2 separate regions of the Homo sapiens genome follow, and region 2 is linked to region 1. The links come from fine-mapping of genetic effects on plasma protein levels. A gene starts in region 1. The other region holds a variant in brackets. All regions are shown on one strand. Distances are between the middles of the regions. Region 1 holds the start of VMO1 (vitelline membrane outer layer 1 homolog). Region 2 holds the start of TM4SF5 (transmembrane 4 L six family member 5).

Region 1 (11,469 bases):
GAAAGAGAAACAGAAGGGCTGGGGCTGGGCGCAGTGCCTCACACCTGTAATCCCTGCACTTTGGGAGGCCGAGGCGGGCGGATAACCTGAGGTCGGGAATTCAAGACCAGCCTGACCAACACGTAGACAGCCTGTCTCTACTAAAAATACAAAAAGTAGCCTGGTGTGGTGGTGCATGCCTGTAATCCCAGCTACTTGGGAGGCTGAGGCAGGAGAATTGCTTGAACCCGGGAGGTGGAGGTTGCGGTGAGCCAAGATCGCGCCATTGCACTCCAGCCTGGGTAACAAGAGAGAAACTCTGTCTCAGAAAAAAAAAAAAAAAAAAGAAAGAAAACCAAACCAAAACGAAAAAACAACCCAGAAGGGTCTGGATGACGAGGTTTTTGGTCTGAGGACCTGGAAGAATGAAGTGTCATTTGAGCCAGCAAAGACTATGAAGGGAGAATTTTCGTGGGGAGGGCGTGTTGGAGCTTAGTGTTGGACATGGTAGGTTTGCTATGCCTAGGTGACATCCAAGTGGAAATACCGAATAGGCAATCGTATATGTAGGATTCTGGAGTCCAGGAGAAAGTGGATTGAAGTTGTGATTTGGAAGTTATCAGTGTATGAAATGGCAAGATCTTTCATGTTCATTGTGGGAGTGGCCGTGGAGTCACTTGGCTGCACAGGGGTGAAGCTCAGGGACAAGTCTGGGCTGGAGACTCAGCGTGTGTTTGGCAACCGAAGCCACGGGAGTGACTACGATAGGCCGGGGGAGCGTGAGTCTCTCGGCTGCCGAGAACAGAGATGACACATCTTCTCACCTTCGTTTTTTATTTCCCTTAAGCGCCTGTCGTCATCACACAAAACGCCCTACGTCGACGCTGCCAAATATTGCTTTTTTATTCCTCACAGCTCCTCCCGTCTTTCCGAGACTGCGGACAGAGGGAGCTCAACGCCATTCCCTGCCGGGGGCGGCCCTCGCCGCGGCGACGTCACGGAAGAGGCGGGATACGGAGGCGGCCGCGGCGCGGGCTGCAGGACTGACCCCGGGCTGCGCGGCCCCACCCCGGGCGGTCCGCTCCGTTCCCGCCGGTCCCCGCAGCCGCCGTCTTAGGCCAGCTGGAGCAGGCCGCGCTCGGCCAGCAGGCTCTGGGTGCGGTTGTAGACATCCTCCAAGGTGCCGGCGGCCCGGACCAGCGCGGCCCGCGCCTCCGCCTCGGTGGCTCCGGGACACGCCAGCTCCAGCAGGCGGCGGCGACCCGGGAAGGCGAGGAAGGCGAGGCGGGCGGTCTGTCGGACCAGCCAGGGGTGATGCGGACCCAGGGCCGCACGGTAGGCGTCGCTGCACTGCACGCCCGCGTCCGGGCCTCCCAGCGCGCCGGTCGCCACCCGGTGGAGGCAGAGCTGGGACCAGCGCAGCGCGCGGTGCAGCAGGAGCAGCGTGCGAGAGCCCGAGCTCCGGGTCGGGTCCCGGGGGGCCGCCCCCGGCTGCTCCAGCAGTCCCGCCCTCCGCTCCCACGCCGCCATGGCCACCAGCGACCAGTAGTGCTCCGCGTCCGGGCCGTGCACCCGAGCCTCCAGGTCTGTCACCTTGGTGAAGGCCTCCCTAGTGGCGAAGGCGAAGACGGAGCCGAGGGGAGTCAGGAACCTGCGGGCGAGACGATTTGAGAGAATGGAGATGGAGCCGCCAAGGAGGCGGGGACCGGCTGGGGGGCGGGAGGCCACTCACTCGACGAGTGCCCTCCATCCCGCCAGGTACGGCGACAGCCCCACATCCCCTTCGGGTTTCAGACTGGCGTGGAACCGCCTCATCATGCGGCCCAGCATCCCCCGAGGGCCCAGACACGGAGGCTGTTTCCTCTCCGGGGCCTCCAGGGTTCCCGACTCCTGCCGGACCTGGTGGGGAGACACGATGGGAAGAGGTGGGAGCAGATTCTGCCCTGAAGAAATTGTTCCGAAGGTTTAGCTGGCGGCTCTTCTGCTGTGCGCTCAGCTTCCGACGGGAGAGGGTAGACCGGGGGAGGACCCGCCCTTTGCCGGACCCTCAGCCTGGCTCCACGTCCCCCTGTTCTGGTCCCTCCTGGAGCGCCCGCGCCCAATCCTGCGCCTAGCGTACCTGGAAGGGCGCCGTTTCCCCTGGAACGCAGGGCTGCGCCCTGGGTCCGCAGCCCGAGCGGGCGCCTGGGTAGAGGAGAAGCGGAGCGGTGAGGGCTCGAGAAAGAGGCTTGAGTCGTGAGGGCCTGGATTCCGGGCTTCCTCCCGGAGCAAGTGAGGGAAGGGGCAGCTCACCTAGGCTCCGAACACTGAGATAAAGCAGCAGCAGCGCGAAGATAGCGAGAGGAATTGAGTGGCTGAACCAGTGCCGCAGGGCTGGGGGCCGCGCCGCCACTCCCATGCCTGCTGCTGGGACCGCCGCCCCCTCACCAGCGCCTAGCCAGTCCGTGTCCCTCCGCCTCCAGGAGGGGACAGAAGCCCGTGGTGCCCTGAGGCGCAAAGGATTAATAATTAACCTACTAAGGCCCCTTCCCCTGTGCCCTTCGCCCCAAAGGGCAGCTACCCTGGGTGCGAGGAACTGGGTGAAGGGAATTTGGGGGATTCGACAGCAGTGACAGATCAGTGCATTTCCCTTCCCTGTAGGGCCAGCTGTAGCAAGAGGCACTCTGAGTATTGGGAAGAGAGGCAGGGCCCAGAACAGCTCCCCTACTGAGCAGTGGTGTGGGCCCTAAATTCACTCTGGGCTTGAGTTCCCTCCACTGTAAATTGAGGATAATAATAGGTACTTTGCAAGCCTCATGTGAGGATTAAATGATAACGTATGTGAAAACACTAAATGGAAAAGCTGACCACAATTGCCCTATAAATCTTATTAAGTTCAAGCATTGTCCGGCTCTGGGATCCAGGGAACACCCACTTCTCTCTCGCTCTCTTTTTTTTTTTGTTTGTTTTTTGTTTTTTTGTTTTTTGAGACAAAGTCTCGCTCTGTCGCCCAGGCTGGAAAGTGCCGGCTAATTTTTACATTTTTAGTAGAGACAGGGTTTCACCATACTGGACAGGCTGGTCTCGAACTCCTGACCTTGTGATCCGCCCAACTTGGCCTCCCAAAGTGCTGGGATTACAGGCGTAAACCACCGCGCCCAGCCGGGAACACCCACTTCTAAATTCTCTATCTTATTCCCAGGGGACTTTGTCTTGACCTGGATACATGACCTCTTGCAATCATATACGTACGTCAGGCTTTATCCTTTTGCATTTTTGTGGTTTAATTTTCAAAACTCCAGATTGGCTCTTCAATCATTCATTGCACCAACTTTTATTAAGTACTTCCGCACGTACTAGGCTTCAAGAATACAAAAGTGCCTTCACAGAGCTCAAGGTCCACTGGGGGAGAATTTATCCTCTGTCTCCCCCACTGGAATGTGACCTCTGATGACAGGGGCCTTGTTATTCTTGCTTACAGCAAGTGGAATATTGCTTAAGCCAAAACATATTATTGCTAAATAGGTATTGAATAAACAAAGGAGTGTGTATGAGGGGCAGGTAAATCTGGGGTTGTGGCCCCTAACAAATTTAGCCAGGCATTTTTAGGCCAGGCACGGTGGCTCACGCCTGTAATCCCAGCACTTTGGGAGGCCGAGGTGGGCGGATCACCTGAGGTCAGCCTGGCTAACATGGCAACACCCCGTCTCTACTAAAAATATACAAATTAGCCGGGCGTGGTGGCGAACGCCTATAATCCCAGCTACTCGGGAGGTTAAGGGAAGAGAATCGCTTGAACCCGGGAGGCAGAGGTTGCAGTGAGCCGAGATGGCGTCACTGCACTCCAACCTGGGCAACAGAGTGAGACTTCGTCTCAAAACAAACAAACAAACAAACAAACAAAAAACATACTTAGCCAGATTTTCTCGCTTTTTGTTTTGCAAATTAGGAGTCCATCTGGTGGTCACAGGGGGAAAGGCATTCCAGGAAAGGATATAAGGATACAGAAAGCAATGGAAGAAACAGCATGATCTTTTCTTAGGGGTTCTTAGTCTCCTGTCCCCAAACTTCTTAGAGTTATTCCTGTTGGACCGGGCGCGGTGGCTCATGCCTGTAATCCCAGCACTTTGGGAGGCCGAGGCAGGCGGATCACAAGGTCAAGAGATAGAGACCATCCTGGCCAACACGGTGAAACCCGGTCTCTACTAAAAATACAAAAATTAGCGGGGCGGCGTCTTGGCGCGCGCCTGTAGTCCCAGCTACTCGGGAGGCTGAGGCAGGAGAATCGCTTGAACCCAGGAGGTGGAGGTAGCAGTGAGCCGAGATCGCGCCACTGCGATGCCGCCACTGGGCGACAGAGTGAGACTTCGACTCAAAAAATAAAAATAAAAAAGAATTATTTCTGTTTGTATATGTCTTCTTCTAAGGTAGGGAGGAGTGTCCCGGATTCTCAAGGTGTTAGGGCCCTGAGCTCTCAGAAGACCTCTCAGAGGAGGAAGAGACTTCTGAGCTGACAGGAGTTTTCTCAGCTTCTCCAGTTCGAGGATTCTTGTCCTATCCTCACTCTGATGTCCCCTCACATCCTGGAGGTCTCTGGGTTGCTCTTGCCCCATCCCGTCACTGGTGGGACTCCCGGGAGGTCACTTCCATCCCTAGCCCTGGTCTCTGCTCTGTCTCCACTCTCACTGCTGGAATGTTTCCCAGCTTGCTTGGCTGTAAACCTAAGGCAAGTTGCTTGCCATTTTTGAGCCAGTTCCCTCATCTACAAAATAGGAAGGATAATTCTCACCCCCCAAAAATTGTTGTGAGGGTTAAACAAAATACTGCAAAGCGCTAACCATAATTCGTAGCCTATAGTAAATATTCAGTAGGTGATGGTTATTTTAATTCGCCCTCTCTCACTGCCCCTCCTACCCTAGCTCTGGGAGCCTCTGCCTCCGGGAGCAGGAAATAGGGTTCCGGGAGTGGATTAGTTTTGGGTTTCACTTAATCTGGGAGGCCCTTCCGCAATCGGAGCCCTCACAGAGGCCAAACTGATATAAATCTGCTTAGGAGGCCTGATTCACAGACGCTACAGGATGGAGCGGGGCGCAGGAGCCAAGCTGCTGCCGCTGCTGCTGCTTCTGCGGGCGACTGGTTTCACATGTGCACAGACAGATGGCCGGAACGGCTACACGGCGGTCATCGAAGTGACCAGCGGGGGTCCCTGGGGCGACTGGGCCTGGCCTGAGATGTGTCCCGATGGATTCTTCGCCAGCGGGTTCTCGCTCAAGGTTGGGGCTCAGGCGTAGGTCCTGGAGAGGGCGGAGATGCGTGGGACCATAGAGCCAAGGATGATAATTCCGTGACTCGCCCTTGCCCCTCTCCTCGATACCCAGGTGGAGCCTCCCCAAGGCATTCCTGGCGACGACACTGCACTGAATGGGATCAGGCTGCACTGCGCGCGCGGGAACGTCCTAGGCAATACGCACGTGGTAGAGTCCCAGTCTGGAAGGTGGGGCGCAGGGGTCGAGGATCCCTTGGGGTGATGGTATGTCCCTTACCCTCTATTACATACTCCGTCGCAACAGGCAGGCTGGCTCCGCCAGAGCTACGGGGCAGTATAGACCGGGGAGGCGAAGGGTGGATGGAAGACCCCTCCTCCGCTCCTCGGCGGAGGTCGGGGAGCACCCAGCCCACCAGGTCATATACACAGCACTTGGCTTGGAAAGTCTCAAGGGCTTGGTGAATGGGGGGCCCGCAGAGGCAACGCATCTCCCTTTGCCTTGCAGCTGGGGCGAATGGAGTGAGCCGCTGTGGTGTCGCGGCGGCGCCTACCTAGTGGCTTTCTCGCTTCGCGTGGAGGCACCCACGACCCTCGGTGACAACACAGCAGCGAACAACGTGCGCTTCCGCTGTTCAGACGGCGAGGAACTGCAGGGGCCTGGGCTGAGCTGGGGAGACTTTGGAGACTGGAGTGACCATTGCCCCAAGGGCGCGTGCGGCCTGCAGACCAAGATCCAGGGACCTAGAGGCCTCGGCGATGACACTGCGCTGAACGACGCGCGCTTATTCTGCTGCCGCAGTTGAACGGCGCCGCCGCCGCCGCTCTCTCCCGGGCCAGGAGGCTAGTCCCACCTCTTGCTATTAAAGCTTCTCTGAGTTGACTTTGGTCTCGCCTGTTTATTTCATTTATTTATTTATTAATTTATTTATTTGAGACGGAGTATCGCTCTGTCCCCCAGGCTGGAGTGCAGTGGCTCACTCGGCTCACTGCAAGCTCTGCCTCCCGGGTTCACGCCGTTCTCCTGCCTCAGCCTCCCGAGTAGCTGGGACTACAGGCGCCCGCCACTACGCCCGGCTAATTTTTTTTTTTTTTTTTTGTATTTTTAGTAGAGACGGGGTTTCACCGTGTTAGCCAGGATGGTCTCGATCTCCTGACCTCATGATCCGCCCACCTTGGCCTCCCAAAGTGCTGGGATTACAGGCGTGAGACACCATGCCCGGCTGGTCTCGCCTGTTTAAGGGATGGGGAACTGAGTCTCCTTTTCCCCTCCTAACTTAGCATTAGGTGAGGCATACATTTGGATTTGGTCTCAGGGGTCTATGGTAGATTGCTGAAAAGTTATGGACTCGAGAAAAACGCACTTAAACAGATAATTTTCAGACAAGTGATGGAAGTCTGGCTTTTTTTTTTTTTTTTTTTTTTGGAGTCTCACTCTGTCACTCAGGCTGGAGTGCAGTGGTATGATCTTGGCTCACTGCAACTTCCACCTCCTGGGTTCAAACGATTCTTCTGCCTCAGCCTCCTGAGTAGTTGGGACTACTGGTACCCACCACCATGCCCAGCTAATTTTTGTATTTTTAGTAGAGATGGAGTTTCCCCATGTTGGCCAAGCTGGTCTCAAACTCCTGACCTCAAGTGATCCACTGGCTTCAGCCTTCCAAAGTTTTGGGATTACCGGCTTGCACCATCGTGCGGGCCCAGGAAGTCTGGCTTTCTGAGAGAGTCTGCAGACACCCTGCCCCCATTAGGTGCCTAGGTTGTCTCCTTTCTGAACCAGTGACCTAAGATTAAGAAAATTCTACCAAATTATGGCCAGATGTGGTGGCTCACAGCTGTAATCTCAGCACTCTGGGAGGCTGAGGTGGGTGGATTGTTTAAGCTCAGCAGTTGGAGACCAGCCTGGGCAACATGGTGAAATCCCCTCTCTACAAAAAGTACAAAAATTAGCAGGGGTATGGTGGTGTGCGCCTGTAGTCCCAGCTACTCAGGAGGCAGAGGCAGGAGGATTGCTTTAGCCCAGGAGGTGGAGGCTGCAATGAGCCGAGATCGTGCCACTGCACTCCAGCCTGAGTGACAAAGTGAGACCCTGTCAAAAAAAGCAAAAAAAAAAAATTCTATCAAATTAGGAGGTGACAAGGCCACAATGGCTTTACAGTTCCATTTTCTAGAGCTTAAGAGGTTACAGTGTCTTTTCCATAGTTTTCATTATTTTCTCCTACAGAACTGATCCCTGTTTAGGATCTTTGTCCTTGCTGTTCTCTCTGCCTATAATCCCCCAAATATCCAGATGGTTAGCAAGCCTTCCTGATCTTAGCTCAAATTTCATTTTCTCAAATTTTCCCTGTCATAAAAGAGAGTCTCTCCATAAGTCAATATCAATCCCATTACCAACATGCTTTTAAAAAGTGCTTATCGGCCACGCACGGTGGCTCAAGCCTGTAATCCCAATACTTTGGGAGCCTGAAGTGGGAGGATTACTTTTGCTCAGGAGTTCGAGACCAGCCTGGGCAACCTCGTCTCTACAAAAAATACAAAAAAGTTAGCAAGGCATGGTGGCATATGCCTATGGTCCCAGCTACTTGGGAGGCTGAGACGGGAGGATTGCTTGAGCCCAGGAGGTGGAGGATGCAGTGAACCGAGATCGTACCACGGCCTTCCAGCCTGAGTGACAGCGAGACCCTGTCAAAAAAAAAAAAAAAAAGTGCTTATTACCTATTGAAATAATTTTTTGCTTCTTTTAAAAATTGCCTATCTTCCACTCTTGGAATGCCAAGTTCTTTGAGAGAATAAAACTTGTCTGTCTTGTTTACCGTCCTTATTTCCAGCGCAACCAAATAGCTCAGTATCTATTCGTTAAGAAAGTACAAGTGGGGTGCAGGGGCCCCAAAGGCCAGGTGTATCCGTAGCCTCTCGCACACTCCTCCTTACAGAAGGCACAATCTCAGACAGAGAAGAGAGCGCAAAGCAGTTTATTCTAGCGAGCAAGGGAGTGAGCGTCCAGGAAGGAGCAGGTGTAACCCGGCGGTCAGTGGAGCCTCAGTGAGGTGTGTCCTGCGGAAAAGAGAAGGTGAGAACGCAGCCAGGACCAGGCAGGTTCCCTCTACAACTCCACCGCAAGAAATTTCACCTGTTTTTTCCTGCAATCGCCGCAGAAGACACCAATGGTCGCGTTCACCAGCTGGATCCCACACAGTACTATCTCCAGGCAGGAGGCGGCCACCAGCAGCGAGAAGAGCGTCACATTCCAGGGGACCACGCGAGGGGGCGCCTCGCACCGATCCCATAGAGTGCGGTTGAGCAAGTAAGCTCCCCTGTGGGAGGGGTGAGGCCACGTGGGAGAAGGCAGCGTGCGCGTGCGCCACCCCGCCCCCAAGAATACGTCCCAGGGGATTTGCTAAGGCCCAGGTAGCCCACGTGGAGCGAGTGCCCTCGAAGTCGAGTCCCGCCCAGGTGTCCCAGTCCACGGGGGAAGGGCGGGAGGGAAGAGGCAGAGAATGGAGGACACGAATACAGGCTAAACCTTACGCGGTGTCTTCGAAGTGGTAGCCCCACTCGCCGTTCATTAAGCATCTGGGTCCATTTCGGAGCCCAGCTCCAGACACCGAGAGGCAGTAGATGGCACCAAGCACCCCGAACGCCGAGGAGAAGACCGAGCGCAGCATCTGGATGTGGTGTGGAAGGGGAGGTAAGGCCCAATCTCCCCACCTGTGGGTGACGACGCTCAGCGCCAGCCCCCACGCATTATCGAAATCTGCTCCAGTCGGGTTGTTAAAATGTATTTTTTAATGCCGGGCGCGGTGGCTCACCCCTGTAATCTCAGCACTTTGGGAGGCTGAGGCGGGTGGATCTCCTGAGGTCGAGAGTTCAAGACCAGCCTGGCCAACATGGAGAAACCTTGTCTTTACTGAAAATACAAAAATTAGCCGGGTGTGGTGGCACATGCCCGAGGCTGAGGCAGGAGAATAGCTTGAACATGGGAGGCGGAGGTTGCAATGAGCCGAGATCGCACCACTGCACTCCAGCCTGGGCGACAGAGCCAGACCCCGTCTCAAAAAGAAAAAAAAAAAAAAAAATTAGAAATTCGGACTCTGTTTCTGCACCTGTCCTTGCAGAACCACAGCACTCTCTATGGAATTCCTAGCTACACAAGCTCCTCTGCGGACTCCCAGGCCCCACCCCACCCTTCCCTGGCACCCACAAATCTCAGATCTCAATGATCCTGAGGGGTAGGCGGGTGAAGGGGAGAGGGGGGAACTACAACCCCAGTGAATCTCGGCGGCCGCTGGCTTTCAGGTTAGCCTAACTGCAAGCCCGGGGTTTGAAGGGAAATTTATTTTAAACCTGACTCGAGGCTGGGCACGATATCTCACACCTGTAATCCCAGCACTTTGGGAGGCCAAGGGGGGCAGATCGCCTGAGGCCAGGAGTTTCAGACCACTCTGGCCAACAGTGAAACCCCGTCTCTACTAAAAATATAAAAATTAGCTGGGTGTGGTGGCAGGCGCCTGTAATCCCAGCTACTTGGGAGGCTGGAAGAACAAGAATGGCTTGAACTAGGGAGGCGGAAGCTGCAGTGAGCCAAGATCGTGCCACTGTACTCCAGCCTGGGTGACAGACCAAGACTATGTCTAAAATAAATAAGATAAATAAATGTAAAATAAAATAAAAATACATTTTTTTTGAGGCGGAGTTTTGCTCTTGTTGCCCAGGCTGGAATGCAATGGCACAATCTTGGCTCACCGTAATCTCCTGCCTCAGCCTCCTGAGTAGCTGGGATTACAGGCGCCCACCACCACACCAGGCTAATTTCTGTATCTTTTCTTTTCTTTTTTTTGAGACAGAGTTTCACTCTTGTTGCCCAGGCTGGAGTGCAATGGTGTGATCTCGGCCCATTGCAACCTCTGCCTCCAGGGTTCAAGTGATTTTCCTGCCTCAGCCTCCTGAGTAGCTGGGATTACAGGTGCCCGCCACCACGCCTGGCTAATTTCTGTATCTTTTCTCTTCTTTTTTTTTTTTTTTTTTTTTTTTTAAATCACTGCTTACTGCAGCCTGGACCTCCTGGGCTCAAGCGGCCCTCCCACCTCAGCCTCCCAAGTAGCCGAGATTGCAGGTGCTTGCCACCACGCCCGGCTAATTTTTGTATTGTTAGTAGAGATAGGGATCTTGCCATGTTTCCTGGGCTGGTCTAGAACTCCTGGCTCAAGCCGTACTCCCACCTCAGCCTGCTAAAGTGTTGGGATTACAGGCATGAGACACCACCCCCAGCCCTGAATTCCTTCTTAATCTGGATCTTACCCTGCAGCGGTTTCCACAGCACCCAGCACCACAGCAGCCCTTGCCCCCTGCCCGAACGGCTGCAATCCCCGGACACAGTACCTGTGGGACAAGAGTCATTGTTATAGCACGTCCCCCCAGATCCTCCAGGCCTGACTTGCATCAGTGCCTACCTCCTTCAGGAAGCTGCCTGTGATGCCTTCAGCCCTTTGGACTGTAGAAGACCTTATCTCTACGTCTCCTGGAGCTGCTGGGCTTCACCTTACTTTATCCTTATTTACGTGCCTACCTTATCTCTGTCCAGATTGTGGCCTCTAGAGGGTAGGGCCCAATATCATTATTTTCCCCAATCTTGGCACATAGTAGGTGCCCTACTGAATGGAAATCAGGGAAACTACTTCACATGCTATGAATTGATTCATCTCTCAGGGTCTCAGTTTTGCCTGTATAAAATGGGTCTGGAAGATCTACCTCACAGGTCTGTTCTCAGGATTTAATGGGAGAACAAGCTGACTAGGTGTTAAGACTGGCTCAGAGGCCGGGCGCGGTGGTTCACGCCTGAAATCCCAGCATGTTGAGAGGCTGAGGCTGGTGGATCACCTGAGGTCGGAAGTTCAAGACCAGCCTGACCAACATGGAGAAACCCCAACTCTGCTAAAAATACAAAATTAGCCGGGCGTGGTGGCGCATGCCTATAATCTCAGCTACTCGGGGGGCTGAGGCAGGAGAATTACTTGAACCTGGGAGGTGGAGGTTGTGGTGAGCTGAGATCGTGCCACTGTACTCCAACCCGGGCAATAAGAGCGAAACTCCATCTCAAAAAAAAAAAAAAAAAAAGACCAGCTCAGAGTAACTCAATATTTATAAGTTCCCTCAGCAGCAGGAAGGGATAGAGGTGTTGGAGTGTCTGGTGAATTGGGATTACAGTAGAGTGTGGAAGAGTGCTAGTGGATGGTCTGATATGGAGTGTA
Region 2 (11,469 bases), 19 kb after region 1:
CGGTGAGTGAAAGTAAGCCAGTGGTTCCCAGGTCCAGAGGAAAACAAGCCTGGAGCACGGAGCAAAGTTCAGACAGAGGCGTGGCAGAAACTGGCAGGATCAGAATGATAAGGGAGAGAGGCACAGGATGTGGGCCCTGAGGAGGCAGAGGCGGAGGAGCTGCAGCCCTGAGGTGAAGGGAGGATGTGGTGCTGGACAAGGTGGGGGCTATGGACACATTACCCTGGGTTAGTGCCTTCCTGTTTTTTCTGCACAGCTCCACAGCCCCTCTGTTGGTTCCATACCTGCTTTGCAACTTAGCCAAGCCCCTTCATGTCTCTTAAGTCTCAGTTGCCACTTGTGTCTGGGCACGGTGGCTCACACCTGTAATCCCAGCACTTTGGGAGGCCGAGGAGGGTGGATCACCTGAGGTCAGGAGTTTGAGACCAGCCTGGCCAACGTGGTGAAACCCCGTCACTACTAAAAATGCAAAAGTTATCTGTGCATGGTGGCGGGCACCTGTAATCCCAGCTATTCGAGAGGCTGAAGCAGGAGGATCACTTGAACCTGGAAGGTGGAGGTTGCAGTGAGCTGAGATTGTGCCATTGCACTCCAGCCTGGGTGACAAGAGTGAAACTCTGTCTCGAAAAATAAATAAATAAGTAAATAAAGTGACAAGAATGAAACTCTGTCTCAAAAAGTAAATAAATAAATAAATAAATAAATAGATAAATAAATAAGTGATGCCACTTGCCTTGTGGGCTACTTGTGAGGATTAAATGGGACAACCTGAGAAGTATTTTGTAAACTAGGAAGCACAGAGCAGATGTGTGGTGGCCTCTTCGTTTCTGCCAGCCTCTCAGGCAGCATTCTTCCCAGGGAGAAATTAAAGAGGTGATTGTGGGCTCTTATTGTCCTTGCATTTCGTCTTCCTGGTATTTGATTATTGATGTCTCCTCCTCTTGAGGCCACTGCCTGTCTCTCAGGGTGGGCTCGGGACCTAGGCCTCATTGATGAGAGCGTTCTATCCTGCTAGCCTCGGTGTTTGATTTAGCAACAGCCATGCGATCTGAGCCAACTCTGTGAGAATCAGCTTCTGCCATTTTTCCATTCTGAGGTCAAAGAAGTTCTGTTTTTGTTGGGGTGCTGCAGTTTCCTTGATAACTTCTTTTTTTTTTGAGACGGAGTCTCACTCTGCCGCCCAGGCTGGAGAGCAGTGGCGTGATCTTGGCTCACTGCAACCTCCGCCTCCTGGGTTCAAGCGATTCTCCTGCCTCAGCCTCCCAAGTAGCTGGGATTACAGGCGCCCACCACCACACCCAGCTAATTTTTGTATTTTTAGTAGAGACGGGGTTTCACCATGTTGGCCAGGCTGGTCTCAAACTCCTCACCTCAAATGATCCACCTGCCTCAGCCTCCCAAAGTGCTGGGATTACAAGCATGAGCCAAGCCACCCAGTCGACTTCTTTTTTTTTTAATTAAAAAAATGTTTTTGAGACCAGGGTCTCCCTTTGTTGCCCAGGCTGGTGTGGAGTGGATCATGGCTCCCTGCAGCCCTGACCACCTGGGCTCAAGTGATCCTCCCACCTCAGCCTCCCGAGTAGCTAGGACTATAGGTGTGTGCCACCACACCTGGCTAATGGTTTTTTGTTGTTTTTTTTTTGAGATGGAGTCTTGCTCTGTCACCCAGGCTGGAGTTTAGTGGTGTGATCTCGGCTCACTGCAACCTCTGCCTCCTGGGTCTCAGAAGCAAACAGGAGAGTGAAGGCCCCCACAGAATGAGCCCTAGCTCAAGTAGGATGTGGGAGTGCCATGAAGAGATGAGGGTAGCAGGAAGGGCTGCAGGGCTTCAGAGGGTATGCAATGAGGCTGTCACCTGGAAAGTGTCACCAGCCAGTGGCCCCTGATGCAGCCCCTCCTTGCGGCCCACTCAGACCACTACAGAAATGTGGAAAATGGAGAAAAGCCAGAATCTCTGCTATTTATAAGACAGAGGAACTGGATTGAGAAAAATACATGGAGAATTTACCTCTTGAATCAGAGGATGCCTGAAAAAGAAAATACTTTGAACCTCCCCAACTATTTGTCTCTGACTCATAGGTAATTATGATGACTGATACATTTGGTTTTGCTTCTGTTGGCATGTTTAATGCTTTAAACAACATTTCCATATTGCTTCTGATGTTTTCTGTTCCTCTTCTTTTTTGTTTTTTGAGACAGAGTTTTGCTCTTGTTGCCCAGGCTGGAGTGCAGTGGTGCGATCATGGCTCACTGCAACCTCCACCTCCCAAGTTCAAGCAATTCTCCTGCCTCAGCCTCCCGAGTAGCTGGGATTATAGGCATGCGACACCACGCCCAGCTAATTTTGTATTTTTAGTAGAGACGGGGTTTCTCCATGTTGGCCAGGCTAGTCTCGAACTCCCGACCTCAGATGATCCCCGCCTCGGCCTCCGAAAACGCTGGGATTACAGGCATGAACCACTGCGCCCAGCCTCTGTCCCTTTTCTTTAAAGATTTTACATTATCCTTTTTTTTTTTTTTTTGAGACAGGGTCTCTGTCACTCAGACTAGAGTGCCATGGTAAGATAATCATGGCTCGCTGCAGCTATGACCTCCTAGCTCAAGCTGTCTTCCCACTTCAGCTTCCTTAGTAGCCAGGATTACAGGCCCACACCACCACACTCAACTAATTTAAAAAATTTCTTTTGGCCGGGCGCAGTAGCTCACGCCTGTAATCCCAGCACTTTGGGAGGACAAGGTGGGCAGATCATGAGGTCAGGAGATCGAGACCATCCTGGCTACCGTGGTGAAACCCTGTCTCTACTAAAAATACAAAAAAAATTAGCTGGGTGTGGTGGCAGGCACCTGTAATCCCAGCTAGTCGGGAGGCTGAGGCAGGAGAATTGCTTGAACCCGGGAGATGGAGGTTGCAGTGAGCCGAGATTGCACCACTGGACTCCAGCCTGGGTGACAGAGGAAGACTCCATCTAGAAAAAAAAAAAAAAGATACAAGGAAAAGGGTCACATTGGATCCCACCCTAGATCACCTGACCCCCAGCCAACTCCTATGTGTGTATCAGTGAAATAAATGCTTATATTTATTTGACACTAAGACTTCGTCGAGGGGGATGGTTTGTTGCCCAGTAACAAGTTCCTAACACAGACCCCCTTATCTAGGCCAGGGCTGGTTGATTGAGGAACAAGTAGCTGACCCAAAGGCAGACATGTAGCCAGCGACCTGTGAGGTCTCTCGAGGTGAGAACTCCATCCAACAGAGGTACACTGACTGGATAATGACCAATCCACCGACTGGATCTTCATGATTGGGAAATGTGTCTGTGAGACAAGCTGAGACAGTCATCAGAGAGTGGGGTGGCTTCAAACTGAGAGTTGTATGCAAGAAAGAAGCAATCAAAAGCCAGAGGCAACTGACACCAGAAATAAGCAGAAGTCACAGCAAGAGAAGTGTATGGAGAATAGTTACTCTGAAACAGCGCCAGAGGGAGAAGCACAGGCACTGGAAAACTCTGGTTCCTCAGGAGGTGGCCGATGAGAGGTTGTCACCAGCACTAATGTTGAACTACCAGAGCAACTGTCATATCCCGAATAGTGGCCCTTCCAACCGTGGACCTGAAGAGGGGATTCAGCC[A/G]TTGATCTGATGGACAGAGAGCAGGGCCAAGAGCTGGCCACCTATTTGTCTACAAGTTGCTCAAGCTGATTCTGAGAGATGGTGCCTCTTTTTTATTTTTTTTTAAACAGAGTTTCACTCTTATTGCCCAGGCTGCAGTGCAGTGGCGTGATCTCGGCTCACCGCCACCTCCGCCTCCCGGGTTCAGGAGACTCAAGTAGTTGGGATTACAGGTGCCCGCCACCACGCTTGGCTCATTTTTGTATTTTTTGTGGAGATGAAGACAGGGTTTCTCCATGTTGGCCAGGCTGCTCTCGAACTCCTGATCTCAGGTGATCCACCCACCTCGGTCTCCCAAAATGCTGGGATTACAGGTGTGAGCCACTGCGGCCAGCCAAATGGTGTCTGTTTTGAGGATGAATAAAGAGAAAAAAAATAGTTGTGTGGGTGGGGTGGTCCACAGGCATTCATTACATTATTTTTATACAATTCTGGATGAATGAAATAATGTTAATAATGTTAACAAAACATTATAGGGATTCTGAAAAATTTTCTCAAAACCAGGGAAGGGCAAATCAACCTGAAGACTGAAAGAAACAGAATCCTCTGGAGGAACATTTACTATAGGATTTGGAAGAGATTTCCAGGAAGATTTTTGATGACATCACTAGAATTCTCCTGGAACTAGGAACAGAATAACTTAAGAAAGAAAAGGCTGGCCGGGCGCGGTGGCTCACGCCTGTAATCCCAGCACTTTGGGAGGCCAAGCTCGGTGAATCACCTGAGGTCAGGAGTTTGAGACCAGCCTGGCCAACATGGCGAAACCCCATCTTCACAAAAAATACAAAAATTAGACAAGTGTGATGGCAGGCACCTGTAATCCCAGCTACTCAGGAGGCTGAGGCAGGAGAATCGCTTGAACCCGGGAGGTGGGGGTTGCAGTGAGCCGAGATCGCACCATTGCACCCCAGTATGGGCAACAGAGCAAGACTCCATCTCAAAAAAAAAAAAAAAAAAAAGGTCCAGGCTCAGTGGGTCACGCTTGTAATCCCAGCACTTTGGGAGGCCGAGGCGGGCAGATCACCTGAGGTCAGGAATTCGAGACCAGCCTGACCAACATGGGGAAACCCCGTCTCTACTAAAAATACAAAAATTAGCTGGGCATGGTGGCGGGTGCCTGTAATCCCCGCTACTCAGGAGGTTTAGGCAGGAGAATCGCTTGAACCCGGGAGGTGGAGATTGCAGTGAGCCAAGATCACGCCATTGCGCTTCAGCCTGGGTGACAGAGTGAGACTCTGGCTCAAAAAAAAAAAAAAAAAAATTCAGGAAACTGGCTTCTCCTAAGAACAAGAATAGAACTGGTGGAAGTGACACCACAGTTAAAACATCTGCACTAGGAGAAGACGTCACTGAGCGCAGATAGATCCACTCAGGTCAGTGGGTTGAAAGTTATACTGCACGGCAGGTAAAATATTAAAAGTCAGCTGACCATAGATTCATCCTGACAAAATATCTGAATTAAAGGATACATCTAGGCAGAATTTAAAAAGGCTACTTAGAAAGAAACAATAGTTGGTGTGGCCAGAGTCTTCTCTGAAATACTGAATGTCAGAGGACAAAGGAGTAAGGCAGCTGTGTCCACCAAAAAAGGTAGAACTATCATATACATGTCTAAGTTGCATTTTGTATGTTAAGGGCAACACAATTGCATTTCTGAGAATGTTTGGATTTCAAAATAACACTTTGGCTCCTTTTTTTTAGAGAAATTGTGTTGACTCACCAAGAGATGAAGTAAAATAAAAACCCCAAAATGGGGAAGTCTTGACGTAAGTCTAAATAAATTTCATATATCTGGTTACAAAACTGGATGCACATTTTGGAAAAAAATATTTTTCTTCTCTTTTGTTTTGAGTCAGAGTCTTGCTCTGTCATGCAGGCTGGAGTGCAGTGGCGTCATCTTGACTCTGCAACCTCAGCCTTCTGAGTTCAAGCGATTCTCCTGCCTTAGCCCCCCAAGTAGCTGGGATTACAAGCATGGGCCACCAGGCCTGGCTAATTTTTATATTTTTAGTAGAGACTAAGTTTCACCATGTTGGAGGGTGGTCTTGAACTCCTGACCTCAAGTGATCCACCTGTCTTGGCCTCCCAAAGTGCTGGGATTACAGGTATGAGCCACCACAACCCGGCCAGAGCCATTGTGCCCAGTCTCATTTTTTTTTAAAGACAGTGTCTCACTCTGTTGTCCAGACTGGTGTGCAGTGGCATGATCTTGGCTCACTGCAAACTCTATCTCCTGGGCTCAAGTGATCGTCCTGCCTCAGCCTGCCAAGTAACTGGGACTACAGATGTTCACCACCCACCATGCTTGTCTAATCTTTTTGTGTGTATATATGTAAATATATATATATATATTTTTTTTGAGACAGAGTTTCACTCTTGTTGCCCAGGCTGGAGTGCAATGGCGCAATCTCAGCTTACTGCAACTTCTGCCTCCCAGGTTCAAGCGATTCTCCTGCCTCAGCCTCCCTAGTAGCTAGGATTACAGGCATGTGCCACCACGCCCGGCTAATTTTGTATTTTTAGTAGAGACAGGGTTTCTCCATGTTGGTCAGGCTGGTCTCAAACTCCCGACCTCAGGTGATCCGCCCACTTCGGCCTCCGAAAGTGCTGGGATTACAAGTGTGAGCCACCGAGCCCAGCCATCATTTTGTATTTTTTGTAGAAATGGGGTTTCATTTTGTTGCCCAAGTGGTCTTGAACTCCTGGGCTCAAGAAATCTGCACACATAGGCTTCCCAAAGTGTTGGGATTACAGGCGTGAGCCACTGCACCTAGCCCCGTAAAAATTTCTTTTGAAGTGGCCGGGCGTGGTGGCTCACGCCTGTAATCCCAGCACTTTGGGAGGCCGAGGTAGGCGGCTCACCTGAGGTCGGGAGTTTGAGACCAGCCGGACCCACATGGAGAAACCCCATCTCTACTAAAAATACAAAATTAGCTGGACTTGGTAGCGCATGCCTGTAATCCCAGCTACTTGGGAAGGCTGAGGCAGGAGAATCGCTTGAACCTGGGAGGTGGAGATTGCAGTGAGCCAAGATCGCGCCATTGCACTCCAGCCTGGGCAAGAGCAAAACTCTGTCTCAAAAAAAAAAAAAAAAAAAAAAATTCTTTTAAAGGGCAGCTGTATAATGTAAATTCTAAAAATGATATTAATACTATTAAATATGTCATTATTGCTTGCCATACTCTGGGTCCATTGTAAGGAACTATACCAGGTAACAGAAAACCCAACTCTATTGCAACAAAAAGGGAATTTATTGGTTCAAGCAATCAAAACATCCAGTAGGACTGAAGTAGGACTAACTGCAGGTGCAGTTTGGTCCAGAAGTTCAGGATGTCATCAGTGTTCTTGTTTCTCTGCCATTCTCTCTGCTGTTCCTTTTTTTGGCTTTGACTTCCTCCTTAAGTGGGATCTTCCTCCTGACAGTAGTATTAGCTGCAGCAGTTCAGACCTTATGTCTTTACACCCTACCACCAGGAGGAAGAGAATCTCCTCGCATAGCTTTCCCTGAGTAGAGAGGAAGTTTCTTTCCCATTTACCCCAGAAAATTTCTCCTTGGTGCAGACTGGGTTCTATGTCTGTCCCTTACACGGATCACTGTGGCCAGAGGGTAGAACATGCTGTATGAGTCTGTTCTCACGCTGCTAATAAAGACATACCCGAGACTGGTACTTTATAGAGGAAAGAGGTTTAATTGACTCACAGTTTAGCATGGCTGGGGAGGCCTTAGGAAACTTACAATCATGGCGGAAGGGGAAGCAAACATGTCCTTCTTCACATGGAGGCATTCCAGCACAGGGGGTGTTGTCAATTCTGTCTAAGCCACCAGGCTGGGAAATTAAGGGCAGTATTAGGAAGGAGGAAAGACAGAATGAATGATGGGGAGGCATCCAGCGAATATCCTCTCCAGGGAATCTGTCTAAACTCTGTGGCTCCGTACTCACTGCCCATAGCTGAGTAGCACATGCTTGACCTAGTATGTGACAGAGATAGTGAGTTAGTCCCAGTCTTCTGCTTTTATTATAGTAGCAGACTTTGTAGTCTGCTGCTAAAGGCACATGGCTGCTAAGCTAGAGACTATATTTTCGGCCAAGCCCGGTGGCTCACGCCTGTAATCCCAGCACTTCGGGAGGCTGAGGCGGGTGGATCACCTGAGGTCAGGAGTTTGAGACCAGCCTGGCCAACATGGTGAAACCTCATCTCTACTAAAAATACAAAAATTAGCCAGGCGTGGTGTCTCACGTCTGTAATCCCAGCACTTTGGGAGGCCAAGGCAGGTGGATCACCTGAGGTTGGGAGTTTGAGGCCAGCCTGACCAATATGGAGAAACCCCATCTCTATAAAAATACAAAATTAGCCGGGCGTAGTGGCACATGCCTGTAATCCCAGCTACTCCGGAGGCTGAGGCAGGAGAATCGCTTGAACCTGGGAGGCGGAGGTTGCAATGAGCTGAGATCATGCCACTGCATGCACTCTAGCCTGGGCGACAGAGCGAGACCCCGTGTCAAAACAACAACAACAACAAAAAAACCCTATTTTTTCTAACTTCTTTTGTAGCTGTGGCCATGCGTTGTCACATAGTTATGGCTTATGGGAAGGAGTGTAAATGATTTGATCAACTTTGTTTCCTTTTTGTGAGAATGCTGCTAGTTGATCTTACCTTACTGCAATGTTGGTTTTAAGGCATAATGCAGATGTTTTCTGTAAGTTTTATGAGATCCCCACAACAAAGTATTCAATTTATTTATAATTTCAGCTTTTATTTTAGATTTGGGGGTACATGTGCAGGTTTGTCATAAGGGTATATTGTGTGATGTTGAGGTTTAGGAACATGATTAATCCTGTCACCCAGGTACTGAGCATAGGACCCAGTAGTTTTTTTGGTTTTTTGTTTTTTTGAGACAGCGTCTCACTTTGTCACCCAGGCTGGAGTGCAGTGGCACGATCTCGGCTCACTGCAACCTCGGCCTCCTGGGTTCAAGCGATTCTCCTGCCTCAGCCTCCCAAGTAGCTGAGATTACAGGCGCATGCCACCACATCTGACTAATTTTGGTATTTTTAGTAGAGATGGCGTTTCACCATGTTGACTAGGCTGGTCTCAAACTCCTGACCTCAGGTGATCCACCCGCCTCAGCCTCCCAAAGTGCTGGGATTACAGGCATGAGCCACCGCACCCGGCCAGAACCCAGTAGTTTTTTCAACCCTTTCCCCACTCTCTCCCTTCCCCTCTGGAGGCCCCAGTGTCAATTGTTTACATCCTTATGTCCATGTGCACCCAGTGCTTAGCTCCCACTTGTAAGTGAGAACATGCAATATTTGGTTTTCAGTTCGTGTGTTAATTGGCTTAGAATAATGGCCTCCAGCTGTATCCATATTGCTGCAAAGGACATGAATTTGTTCTTTTTTAATGGCTGCAACAATCAACTTTGGTGGTAGACTTTAAGGAATGAGCTTCCCTTTCCTCATCCTGCTGGCTGGAATGTAGGCCAGGAGTTGAACCGTTTGGACTCTTTGGTGAGGACAACCCTTAGAGATGGTGGAACAACAATATCAGGATTCTGGGCTCCCGAACAACCTAGAAGAGCAGGAGTGCCGCTGTGGGCCACCTGCCTCCTTACTATTTATTTATTTATTTATTTTGTGAGACGGAGTCTCGCTCTGTTGCCCAGGCTGGAGTGCAGTGGTGCGACCTTGGCTCACTGCAATCTCTGCCTCCTGGGTTCAAGCAATTCTCCTGCCTCAGCCTCCCAACTAGCTGGGATTGCAGGTGGGCACCACCACACCTGGCTAATTTGTGTATTTTTAGTAGAGACGGGGTTTCACCATGTTGGCCAGGCTGGTCTCGAACTCCTGACCTCAAATGACCCACTCCCCTCGGCCTCCCAAAAAGTGCTGGGATTACAGGCGTGAAGCACCGGGCCCGGCAGCCTCGTTACTATTTTGTGAGCAAGAAATAAACTTCTACTCTATTTGAGACATTGGTAATTTCAGTCTTCGTTTAAAGCAGTGGAAGTTACCAGAAATTTGTAAACTGTACCATAAGCTGAGTGTCCAGGCCAATTAGATTTGCTTTCTCCTAGGATATAAACTGGGAAAAATGGAAAATTTTCCAGTGGTTTCTAGACTTTAAATTGGTTATGAGAATACTGTGAAATTGAGTCAGTGACGTTTATTTCTTTTCTTTTCTTTTTTTTTTTTTGAGACAGAGTCTCACTCCCAGGCTGGAGTGCAGTGGTGCAATCTGGGCTCACTGCAACCTCCACCTCCCGAATTCAAGTGATTCTCCTGCCTCAGCCTCCCAAGTAGCTGGGATTACAGGCGCGCATCACCAAGCCCAGCTAATTTTTTGTATTTTTAGTAGAGATGGGGTTTCATCGTGTTGGTCAGGCTGGTCTCGAACTCCTGACCTCAGGTGATACACCCACCTCGGTCTCCCAAAGTGTTGTGATTACAGGTGTGAGCCACCTGCTTGGCCTATTTGTTAAATATTTAGCATATTTCAAATTTTTTTTTTGATACAGAATCTTACTCTGTCACGCAGGCTATAGTACAGCAGTGGTGTGATCTTGGCTCACTAAAACCTCAGCCTCCTGAGTAGTTGGGACTACAGCCATGTGTCACCACGCCTGGCTAATTTTTTGTATTTTTAGTAGAGATGGGGTTTCACCATGTTGGCCAGGCTGGTCTCGAACTTCTGGCCTCCAGTGATCTGCCCGCCTCGGCCTCCCAAAGTGCTGGGATTACAGGTGTGAGCCACTGCACCTGGCCAATCAATTCTAAGTCACGTGTTTTAGCACATTTTATTTTTCCCAAAATTAGGATATATTGTACAATCCATGGTGTCATACAACATGGTAGGTTTTGCCTACACTTGTGAGAACCCAGTCGTAGCTGTTCGTATTGTTATCACCTCAGCTGAGTTGTGAACCCTACTGGTACTACACTTCTTGAGTTGAATTGCTGTTTATAATGTCTTCAAATAACACACAGTACCAATTACATTAGCACTGTCCCAAATTAAATACTTACATATAAATCTAACAAAATACGTATAAGATCTACATGAAGAAAACTACAAAACTCTGATGAAAGACATCGAAGAAGATATAAATAAATGGAGAGAGTCCATGTTCATATATAGGAACACTCAACATTGTCAAGATGTCAGTTCTTTCCAAATTGATCTGTATCTTCAACACAATCCCAATCAAAATGCCAGAAAACCATTTCATGGATATTTACAAACTGATTCTAAAGTTTGTCTGGAGGGGCGAAAGACCCAGAATAGCCAACACAATATTGAAAGAGAGCAAAGTTGGAAGATTGACACGACCCAGCATCAAGACTTACTACAAAGCTCCAGTAGGGCTGGGCATGGTGGCTCATGCCTGTAATCCTAGTGCTTTGGGAGGGTGAAGCGGGAGGATTGCTTGAGGGCAGGAGTTGCAAGTTACAGTGAGCTGTGATTGTGCCACTGCACTCCAACCTGGGTGACAGAGCAAGACCCTGTCTCTAACAAAAACAAACAAAAGGCCAGGTGTGGTGGCTCACACCTGTAATCCCAGCACTTTAGGAGGCTGAGGTGGGTAGATCCCTTGAGCCCAAGAGTTCAACACTAGCCTGGACAACATGGTGAAACCCTGTCTCTATTAAAAAAAATAAATAAATAATAATAATAATAATAAACCAAAACCGCCGGGCGTGGTGGCTCACGCCTGTAATCCCAGCACTTTGGGAGGCTGAGGGTGGTGGATCACCTGAGGTCAGGAGTTCGAGACCAGCCTCAACATGGAGAAACCCAGACT

What was found. PIP is the posterior inclusion probability: the model's chance that the variant is causal. Protein levels are from antibody-based Olink assays in UK Biobank. Linkage for the fine-mapping came from a reference panel and not from the study's own genotypes, which makes the PIPs less certain.
Region 2: its variant is fine-mapped to the plasma level of the VMO1 protein (UK Biobank, PIP above 0.99).

Annotation. Positions count from the first base shown.
Region 1 is chr17:4,779,920-4,791,388 of GRCh38, reverse strand. VMO1 (vitelline membrane outer layer 1 homolog) reads left to right here and starts at 5,025. Exons shown (of 3, transcript NM_182566.3): 1 at 5,025-5,231; 2 at 5,337-5,452; 3 at 5,730-6,104. The coding sequence starts at 5,037. The coding sequence ends at 6,027. It overlaps TM4SF5 (transmembrane 4 L six family member 5), which reads right to left. Exons shown (of 5, transcript NM_003963.3): 2 at 10,520-10,600; 3 at 8,750-8,886; 4 at 8,352-8,535; 5 at 8,178-8,275. The coding sequence ends at 8,261. It overlaps GLTPD2 (glycolipid transfer protein domain containing 2), which reads right to left and starts at 2,425. Exons shown (of 4, transcript NM_001014985.3): 1 at 2,272-2,425; 2 at 2,099-2,163; 3 at 1,712-1,878; 4 at 800-1,630. The coding sequence starts at 2,377. The coding sequence ends at 1,093. RefSeq lists an enhancer at 659-738 and a silencer at 969-1,618.
Region 2 is chr17:4,760,431-4,771,899 of GRCh38, reverse strand. TM4SF5 (transmembrane 4 L six family member 5) reads right to left here and starts at 14. Exons shown (of 5, transcript NM_003963.3): 1 at 1-14. RefSeq lists a silencer at 7,674-7,836. The variant A/G (reference allele first, on the strand shown) is at 3,629.